2 separate regions of the Homo sapiens genome follow, and region 2 is linked to region 1. The links come from fine-mapping of genetic effects on gene expression. A gene starts in region 1. The other region holds a variant in brackets. All regions are shown on one strand. Distances are from middle to middle. Region 1 holds the start of GRIN2B (glutamate ionotropic receptor NMDA type subunit 2B). Region 2 overlaps GRIN2B (glutamate ionotropic receptor NMDA type subunit 2B).

Evidence for each region. PIP is the estimated chance that this variant, and not a neighbour inherited with it, causes the effect.
Region 2: its variant is fine-mapped to the expression of GRIN2B in tibial nerve (GTEx, PIP above 0.99).

Annotation. Positions count from the first base shown.
Region 1 is chr12:13,978,269-13,983,647 of GRCh38, reverse strand. GRIN2B (glutamate ionotropic receptor NMDA type subunit 2B) reads left to right here and starts at 2,046. Exons shown (of 14, transcript NM_000834.5): 1 at 2,046-2,306; 2 at 3,292-3,720.
Region 2 is chr12:13,947,617-13,952,995 of GRCh38, reverse strand. The region is part of intron 2 of GRIN2B (glutamate ionotropic receptor NMDA type subunit 2B); the gene reads left to right. Among named protein-coding and RNA genes, the nearest start is that of GRIN2B, 31 kb to the left of the region's middle. The variant T/C (reference allele first, on the strand shown) is at 2,341.

The sequences.
Region 1 (5,379 bases):
GGAATGGAATTGCAACAGGGTTCAGGTAGGGAGGAAAAGGAAAGAAAATAGGGAAGAATAGTATAATTTTGGTGAAGGGACTGAGGATAGGAAGGGGAACGTGGGCTATGAGCCAGAAATAAAAAATATAAAAATTTAAAAAGTAGATTCAAGGTCAACCCATGAAGATCCTTGAGTGAGCTTGGATGTTATTCTGAAGCTAATGGACCAGGTAACGGTAATTTTCCTGGAAAATTCAGGGAAGAGTGTTTCAGGAAATCTCTATTAGGTTCTTGCTTTCTGCATTCTATACTCCTCTTGGAATCGGCGTTCTAACAACTGCAAACCTGCCCATAGGCAGGTGAACTTGAAAACCCTGGAGACAAATTATTAGAGGGGCTTGGGTTGGCTGTTGTGTATCAAGAGGGCACAGCAACTCTGGGGTGCTTCGACACTTCCCCAAAGTAGTGAAAGATCAGTTCTAACTCTTAGAAAAATAGAAAACCATTACTGAGAAGGAATAATTTGCATGTGAACACACTCTATTTGTGTTTTCACACAATGCTTATGTGTTCGTGTGTGTTAAATATGTTAGATTCAAAAATTAAGCCTGAGAAAAACCAGGAAACAGAAGAATTACTGTAGCTCAGAAGTATGAGTAGTCTGGTCTACAGGACAGCAAAAACATATCTGATGGCTTCTACAGACTAAAGTTCCAAGCCACTAGGTATATCCACTCACACAGCCTTCTCTCCTGTGCGTTTGTATGGCCGCTTCTCAGGAATGCTGGTGAGAAGCCCATGATATAACCAATATGAAAATGTTCCACCACTGTAGTATTCTAGATATTTGAAAAGACAATGGATGAGAATGAAAATGATGCATATACAATAATATTAATGTTAAAAGTAAACAATACTACAGGTGGTGATAAGGGCTATTAAAATATAAAAGAGTTCAATAGGAAGAGAAATGAATGGATGTTTGCCTTTTCAAAGAGGGTGGGTTTGTAAATGCCAGGAAATCCAGTTTCCTTTAGGGATTATTCACGGGCCTCACCATCTTCTCTTCTCAAGGCATTTAAATAACAGGATCCACTTTAATAAAAAATGTCAAACTCCTCCCGCCTTCACTAGCAGCCAGAAAAGCACGCGTATGGTCCATACTATACAATTTAGCCACGAATGACACCTGCTTTGCTTTGTTTTCTATTGTGTTAGGCGTCAGCCTCGTGTGCTCAGATAGATCTTAAGCTCCTTGAAGGCAAGAAAGAACCCGGTCCCAGACTGCGTCCGACACACAGAATGCTCGTAGGAAGCACAGGCTGATTTATGGAAAATACAGCAAGGGTCTTCAATTTCGAACTACAGCTCCGCCTTGGAGATGCTTTCCGCAGCCCGCGGGCCGCCCACGGGGGGCACTGTCTAGCTCCCCTCGCCCCTCAGCCGCTCTCCGTCGGTGCTGTTCCCCGCTGCGGCCGGGAGGAGGCGCCACGGACTCGGGCTAAGCTTCTTCCCCCTTCCGTCCCCCTTCCATCCACCTTACCACCCCACTTCCCCAGCACATGACGTGGGAAGCTGCCTCCGCCAGAGTCTTAGCAAGAGGAGTGAGGGGGTGCAGGGGCTTGGGGGTGGGGTGGGGTGGGGGGTGTGGAGAAAGAGGACACGCGCGCTCACACCCGCCCCTGGGAGCAGAAGCAGTATCTTCCCCAGCTTCGTGGGTTTCTCCTCCCCCCGGAGTCAGGGTGTGCGAGGTAGGGGGTGTGTGTGTGTCTGTGTGTGTGTGCGCGGCACGTTTTTGAGTGTGAGACCCAAATCCAGACCAGGCAACCTGCGTTCCCCGCGCCTCCCCCCGTCCCCGGTGATTAATACCCATTTTTCTGACGCTCCCCTCCTCCCCTCCTGCTCTCCCTCTCCGGCTGCCGCGCGGTTGACTTGCACAGCCTGCCCCCGCCCGCTTCCCTTCCCCCGGCTCCGATCCTCACCAACTGGAATCTGGGCTCCTGCCTCTCCACCCCCCACCTCTTTTTGAGAAAGGAAGGTTCCCCCCACCCCCTTTCAAAAACCACTTCCTCCGGCTTCTTCACCTCTAGGAAATCTCGGGGCTTCGCTCTATCGAGAGTGCTCGTCAAGGGTGATTCTTGATCACCACCATCCAGTAGTGCTGGCGTCCGAATGCATATCCTTTTGCCTTGCAAAGAAGAGTCATGAACTTCAAAACCCCCGAGACGGATCATTAATCCTGCTTTGCAGGAAAGGAAAACCCTCCATTCCCAGCCACCGGCCACCCCTCTCCGCAGACTGCAACCGCGGAGGCGCTCGGAGCCGGTACGTAAAGATGGGCTTTGGAGTCTCTCCTTTGAATGTAGGGGTTTGGGGGTGTCAGGCAGATAAAGGGTCGAAGCCGTGAAATCGTGAACGAATCTGGCATGAGGTAAAGCTCTGAAATCCAGCAGAACCCGGCACTTGCTAATTTGGACGTGGCTTTTTTAAAGGTTTTTTTTTTTTGTGGGGGAGGGGGTGCTGTGACTGGGTAGGGCTGTCTCTGGTCTTTTGGGGGGTTTCATCCCTTCACCTAGCAGAGGGGCAGGGCAGCGGCGCCCCGGGCCGGACCCACGCGCCGAGCCCATCCGTCCAATCGACACGTTGCAGGTGAAGCCCCGTGCGCTGCACCTCAGCGCGGCGGCAGCGTGAGTGTGCGCGGGGGTGAGTGTGCGCGGGGGTGAGTGTGAGTGCGCGCGGGGCGCGTGCGCGTCGGGGGCGTGTGTGCGCGCGTCAGTGTGCCCCTTCCAAGAAATGCCCAGTGTGCACCCCGTGCACAATCAGAACCCATTCAGCACAAGCCCGGGGTGGGAGGCGGCGCTGCTGCTGGAGGCGATGGGGAGAGCGAGCGAGACAAGTCAGCAGCAATGCAGATGGGGCTGGGGGCCGCACTCGCTGGCGAGTTAAGTGGGAATTGTGTTTCTGCGTGTGTGTGAGTGTGTGTTGCTGTATGGTGCCGCTTCTCCCCCCCTTCCTCCTTCCTTCCCACTTCCCTCCTTCGCTCGCTCCCTCCCTCTCTCCTCTTCCATTCAGGTTGGCTTTCCCACCTCTCATCCGTGCCTGTCCCAGGAATGGTATAGCCAGACCTTTTCTGAATTATTTATAGACCGGTACCAGCTGTTTTCAATTCCTCTCGTGTGCACTCTGTGGGAAATGCGGGGTTTCCTCCCCCCTTTCCTTAAAACGAATTGATATCTTTTTCGGAATGCATTTTTCTCACCCTCCGGGGGACACGCGAATCAAGCCCTGACCGCCTCTTTTTCCCCCTTAGGAAGGGGACGCTTTGGGAATGACCATGCTCCACCGAGGGACGGAGCCGGCCCCCAGCTTCTCCACACAGAGCCTCCTCCACTAACGCTCCAAAAACCAAAAACCGTAATTGCCAGAAGAAGCGTTAAAAATCTATTCCAGCCACTAACCTCACATGCACACGGAATAATTACTCTGGATTCTGCATTGTGAGCTGCTCTCCATACCCTGAATTACCTTTGAATTAAATCTTTTTTTTTTTGAATTTGCATCTCTTCAAGACACAAGATTAAAACAAAATTTACGCTAAATTGGATTTTAAATTATCTTCCGTTCATTTATCCTTCGTCTTTCTTATGTGGATATGCAAGCGAGAAGAAGGGACTGGACATTCCCAACATGCTCACTCCCTTAATCTGTCCGTCTAGAGGTTTGGCTTCTACAAACCAAGGTAGGGCAAATTCTATTTTATTTTTTCCTCACCTGGGGTAGGGATTCCTCATTTTATCTATCTCTTCGAGTCCCTCAAGTGGATCTTTTTGGAAGAAAAGGTCACAAGATATGAAAATAATGCTGTTTTGGGAAAAAAGGCTTATTACAAAGAAGGAAATCTCCCATGTTTTTTCTTTTTCTTCTCTCATCTAACAGGTTTTGGGCTTTTGGGGGGCAGTGGGGGTGGATGTATGCAGGCACAAAAGATGTTGGATGGCATCAGGGGAATGTATCTATATCTATAGACATAGCCAGCCAGGAGACCTGTGTGATTTTCCAGTTAAATAGCATTTTATTCACCCAGAACTAAAGCTCCGATTTTTATGGGAATCTAGAAATCCTTTTTTTTTTTTTTTTTCAGGTTGGCTTTATTCCCCTTGTCACCTTCATGCCTCTCTCCCTGTCTCCTGTCTTTACCTTTCTAGGCATCCTTTCTATGCCCTTTAAAACAGATAAAAATAATGATTGAGATTACTGTGATTGTTGCCCTGAAATCCACTTGCTGTCTAAAGGGTTGACAAGGGGCCCAGAGATCCCGGGAGGCCTATTGCAGAGGGGTAGGTCTAGGTGGGGATCGGGCTGGTCTCAGAACACCTGGAATTGAAGGATGCTGCAGGTTAAACGACTTAAATCTTAAGCTCGGAAAGGAGGAATTCTGTCAATATTCTGCTTTTAATTTGTATTTTTTCCTGTGCTATTATTTTTGAGCTGTAAATTTCTCCTTCTGTCTACATATCTATTTATACCCACACATCCTCCAAGCAAACTGTTACTTCTACACTCTTGCAAAATGGCTATCTTGCAGAGTTCTAAAATGCTGTGCATGTGGAAGGGGTGCAGAATTCGACACGTGAGTCTTTGTGTTAAACAAAGAGATGTGCTGTTTGCATGTATTAGTCTTGTACCCTCAAAAATGGAATTAATACTTTAACATTTTCCCTTTCATCAATTTTTACAATATGTGAAATGTGATTAGGCAGTATTTTAATGTACTTGAGAAGAGAAATAGCAGGAGAAATGGAAAAGACTTAGCTAATGACTCTTCAGCTAGTCACTCATGCAATCCAAGACAACTCTTGAGAGAATCAGATCATTCATGGGTTGGAGGGCCATGATGGTGAGTGGGCTGCTCCTTTCCTTGCTCCACTGACCATATGTCCCTGAACTCTGAAGGCGTCTAAATGCAGGGATCAGGTTGGGATAAAGATCTCCAAAAACATGTAGCAGAATCATTAGCATCATTATTTTTCCTAAAAGTATTACCACCACCCCAACACACACACAATTTTTTTTTCTGGCATTTTAAAACAACAATTCTTTGATAATCCAAAATACCAAAGGGATGTGGGGAAGAGGTGAAAGATCTTTGTCGCTCAACATGACAGTAGATGATAGTTCTTCATTGTCCAGAAAGGATAGATGTAATCCAAATTCACTATCCCCCTTCTCTAGGTTTCATTCTTTTGAGTTTTACTGCTGAAATGCTACTTTGTAACCATGGTGTAATCAGAGTGAGAGGGTGGGATCCCACTTTGAACCATGTTCTCACCACGTCTACAAATGACTGAGGTTATCTGGTGTGTGCTCACCTTAGAGACACCTGAACTCATTCTCCATC
Region 2 (5,379 bases), 31 kb after region 1:
AACAATCACAGCTGTGCCCTACCCAAACTCCTAACCCTCAGAATTTGTGAGCGTAATACACTGGTTGTTATTTTATGCTACCAAGTTTTGGGGTGGTTTGTTATGCAGCCCTACAGAACTGGAATGCCAATGACCAGCATGTTTATTTAGTACATAATTATATGTGTATACTGTCTAATATGTTGTGTTCATTATAAAGCACGCAAAAAAACAGAAATTAAAAGTGGGTGAGATAAAAATAAATATAAATAGAAGTTCTAACATTTTATTTTCATGCCCAGCTCCTGGGGGATTGGAAACCTCATGCTATTATATACCTTAAATACATGGCCAGAAGAAGACAGACTTTGATATTCAGGATCTTTTAAATAGTTTTCAACAATCTATGAAAAAGAAAGACGGGGGCAAGTGATAGAGAGGGGAAGTACAGATAGGGAGGTTCTCACCGGAGGAATGCAGGAAGGAGAGAGGAAACACAGGAGGAGAGGTTCCATGGGATAGAACACAGGGCTCCTAAACAGGGTGGAGATTTTCCTGAAGCAGTATTAGGCTTTCAGAGTATTTTAGTTTCATTTCTGTAATGCCATTCAGGAGGACCGTTGCTAACTATATCCTAATTTGTGGATTCCTGCGGACACTGTATAAAGGTGAGTGGGTAAGATGAGTTACAGTTTCATTAACACAACGGGGACTGTTATTGAGAACTGATTCTAGAATCGAGTGCTTCAGAGATCTGAATATTTTTAGAAAGAGAATTGGGTTGAGTCTTTTTTCTAATATCTCTCACTTCCTTTACGGAAGCTCTAACACATTCCGTGTGGGCACCTGACATGCACATATAGACACATCCTTAAGGTCCTTATATACATTTTTATTTTTATATCACCATATACACGTTGACTTCTTTCTTCACACCCCCAACCAAAAAAAAACCCAATAAAAATCTTTAATAATTTTCTCTCTTACTGCTATATATACACAGATCCACTTTTGATATATCAATTGTGCTTAGGTATAAGACCTGTACAGATAAATGTATTAATCTATTGCAAGCAATTAATAAGGATAGCTTTCTTTTTCTTTCTTTTTCTCCCCTCTTCTCTTTCTTATTACCAATAAAGTCTATTTATCCCCTTCTTCCTGTGAATTCCCTTACAGAAGCCACACAGGTTAACCAGCTATATAGTATGGTGGCCATTTGCTATTAGGGCTGTGGTTTCACAGATAAATTAGACCTTGTCTCCACTCTTGAGAAGCTCACAGTCTAGAGAGAGAGATGAACAGATAAATTGGTAATCATATTTTGTGTGGTGAGTGCTGTGATGGAAGCAAATACAGTGTGTGTGGGAGCCTGTGGTATGGACGCTAAGTGTCCATGAAGTCTTCCTAGATTTTTGACAAATGGGTGCAATTATACAGCTCTACCAACCATGAATTGCATGTGCTTGGCTTTTGGATGCAGTAAGCTTTCTACAAACAGACTGGATCATTTGACTTGAATATCCTGTTAACAAGACAAGCTAATTTGCCCGAGGGGACTTCTTCACCCTTACATTTAGGCTAAATGGTTTTTACGTTGGATTTTCTTATTCAGGCTGCAGGGTTCCTATCCTTCCCTGGAATGAATGCTCTCTAGCTTGTCTACCAGGCAGAGACTGCTCAGGGATCACTCTGGGTTTTTTCAGTGTTTCTATTTCATTTCTGGCCTCAGTCAGTCTGCATACAGGAGGTTCCCTGTACTATATCTAGGGTTGTCAGATTTAGTGAATTAGAACACTCAATTAAATTTGAATTTCAAATAAACAATAATTTTTTAGTAGAAGTATGTTTCAAATATTGTAATATTTGCATACTTATACTAAAAGTATTTGATATTTATCATTGAAGTTCAAATTCAATTGGGTGTCCTGTATTTTATCTGGCAGGCCATATCACTACTCTCTCTTGGCCTTGCTCTTCTTGGAATGTTCACAAGGGAGTGGGAGGTGTAAGAAATTTTTATCTCTAGAAGCACCACTTCTGGATTGGAGATTTTGTCCTTCATTTTTCTCTTCCCTGGTCAAACTTAGCTTTTTTCTATGTTGTAGGTGGCTAGGCCTGTCATTCCATGTTGAATTTATTTCTGATAGGGATTCTGGAGGTATTAAAATTCTGGCCCTTGGTTGAACTGCTTTACCAAAGTAATATTTTACCTAAAACTTATTTTTCTCCATAAGCTTGAAGTGGAAACTCTTTTTAAGGAATTGTGCCCAAAGCATGAGTCAGAGGCATGAGAGTAGGCTCAGAGAGCAAAGGGCATTTACTGTCGTGCAGGAATCTGAGGCATCTCAGCACTCCTTT[T/C]GTTTATTTCTTCATTGTTCATTGTGATCTGGCAAATGAGAAACCTAGGCCAGTAATTTTTAGATAGGCAAGGAGTCAAATATAAGAAACAATAATAGCAAGAATTTATTGAGCACATCCTAGCAAGCTAAATGCTTTTCCATGTATGTTCTCACTTAATCCTCATAATAATTTAATGAGATAAGTACTCTTATCATCCTTATTTTCCAAATAAGGAATAAACTTAAAGAGATGAAATAACTTGCCTTAGGTTGTGTAGCCCATAAGTGACCAAACTGGGATTTGAAGGCATGTAAATCTGACTACAGAGCTCCCACTTACAACCCCAATGCTACAGTCCTTTGGGGCTGAGCCTGGGCTGGGGTCTCAGTAAACACTCTTGGGTTGATTCATCTACTCTGTTTAAATGATTTCCAACAAGGAAGAATACTTTATAACCTCTTTTGTAACTTCTAGTGTGTGGTCCCCTATTTTGACTGGCTATTCTTCCATAGATTAATACGATGATTTTCCCTCTGCGTATAAAACCATTCCTTAGCCTCAGTAGAAATAGCAAATTGATCAATATCTTCCCCTTAAAGTGGTAACTTTTCTTTTTCCTCTGGTTGTCTCTTATTTTTTCTTCTTAGGTTCTGTAATCGACATCATGATCAAAGGTAATTTAAGTGCCTGTTCTATAATGTTTACTACTTTTTGTTGCTCTCTTTTGAGTTCCTCCTTAATGAATTTAGTATATTTTGGAGAATCACAGTGCTTACGTGCATAAAGTTCATAATAAACATAAATTTGATTGGTTTGGTTCTTGCAGGCTTCTGTACTGCAAACACAGTACAGCCTGGTACATATCTAAAAGTGAGTATTTTGCTGATTCCCTTTAGGCTGTATCCATCTCTGTCTCATGGCCCATCAATATACACTACATTGAATGCAACTTCTTGGCATCGTGGTTTGTGATCTTCCTCTGTAATACTAGAACATGTATGTAAATGAAATCGTTTGTTAACGATGCTATGTCCACCACATGGTACCTGACACCCTCCTGTAGAGGCTAATGGCAGTGTAGATGTTATATTGATCATGAGGCCATAGAGTCCCTCACAGTTGAAGCACCTTATGTCGGTGGCTTTGAGCTGATTGCCGAATGCCACGGCAGCTTCCACACTTAAAGGATTCCAGGAGGCCCTGTGGTCCCTCTGGTTGAGTGTTCAGATTAAGGGTCCTGGAAACCTGTAGCAACCCTGGAGAGAAGAGGCAGGAAGAGGGAGAGGAAAGTTTCTGCCTTTGATCTCAGAGGGTCTGGAGGATGTGGGAGGGCCTAGGAGTTGGAAAGATTGGAAACTCTGTTTGAGACGTCTCTGTAGCAACCAGAATCTTCTGAGATTTCTCTAATAACTCTCTTACCTAGCTGAGGTTTGCTTGCTGTCCAGGCTGAAATGCAAACCAGCATCTCCCTTCTCCCCTCATTTCTGTCCAGGAACTATGGGTTCTTCAGGCAGTGGATTCAGCCCTGATTTGGATCTCTGGGCACTCTTAGGGTTGAAGCAATGGTCCCTCCAAAGTCCGGCAACCACACAGATAATTCTGCTATCACCTGCTGCAGGGACTAATAGCCTGCCCCTGCTGAGGACTTGTGATACAGGGAAAGTAGTAGAACCTCTGGGAACACTCTCTTAAGACTGCTTTCCCTCCTTTCCCAAGAACTTAGTTCTTTCAGAGAAAAAGCGGTCTGCAGTAGTCTGGTGAGTTTGTGGTTCCTGGGTTTTCTGAGTGGCTGCCCATCAGTTTAGAGGGACCACAATGCCAGTGACTCTAAATGGCCCATCTGTCCATGGAATTCCCATTAGTCACCAGTTACCTTCCTTACATTCCGGGTGTCGCAGCACCACAACTTTTGAGTCTTTACTCAAAAGTAAATCAAGACACACCATCCTTGGCATGCTGATGAGATTAATGTAACCTACATTTAGGGGAATTTCAGAAATTTTGTAATTAGAGGTACCGTTGCTCCTTGCAGAATCCAGGTCTCTTCTCTTCAGAAATGTGGCTTTTGAGTGAATAGTCTTTGTTAAGTCACCAGTGTTGGCTCTGCCACCACCAACCGTGTTGAAATCTTTGGCATCAGAGCAGAACCGGATGACTCTGGCAAAAATGAATTTGAGAGGATATATATAAAAAAATCTAAGACCCAAATCTGTGAGACTGTGCTTTATCTCTAGCAAAGAAAAATAGGACTTCCTTGCTATTTACAGTGCTCTTTCAGCAAGGAACACATCTCAGCATCTTTAGTCCCCCCAGAGGGCTAACAAAGGTTTGTTGTTCTTTCATCGCAGCCCATTTTTGAATTTAGCATTTAAACATATGGGGCAGGGTTGGATTGATCCTTATGAAAAGAAAGCATTTACCCCAAGGATCCCCCCTGGCAGAGACTTTCTTTAGGCTTTTTCTGTGAGGCAATGTGGTTATATTTGCCCCAGAACCTTCTTTCTTGTAGCTATTAGACAACAAGTTGACATTTTGTATCATATTTATGCATGTGCTACTTTTAGATACCATCTTATCCTTCCCCAATGGCACTTCTACAATTAACTGCAACATTGTTGGGTTTTGAGTGAGTAAATACCATACTTTCAGGGCCTAGGTGGCCATATGGTCACCTTTGCCATTGTTTTCTTATGGAGAGGTCCTGAGGAGAGTGAAAGAACAATTTCAGTTTAAAAATGGGGGGCTGCTTCTCTGGTTCTGGGACAGGACAGTAAACCCAGAGGGTAGTAGGTTAAAGCCTACAGCGTGGTTTAACGTTATGGAAGTGAGTTGGAGAACAACTCATGCCTCATCCTCAGCTTTGCACTGTGTGTCAGTGATGGTTGCCATGGTGATAGCTTCGTGTCATCACTGGAAGATTTGGACTGCAGCTGGAAAATGAGCCACAGCCAAAGGTGGGGTCCTATCAGATCAACAGCCACTTTTGATGCTAGGGTTTCAAGTTGAAAAGGAGAGGATGGAACAGATTATTGAAAATCTAAGAATACATACAATGTA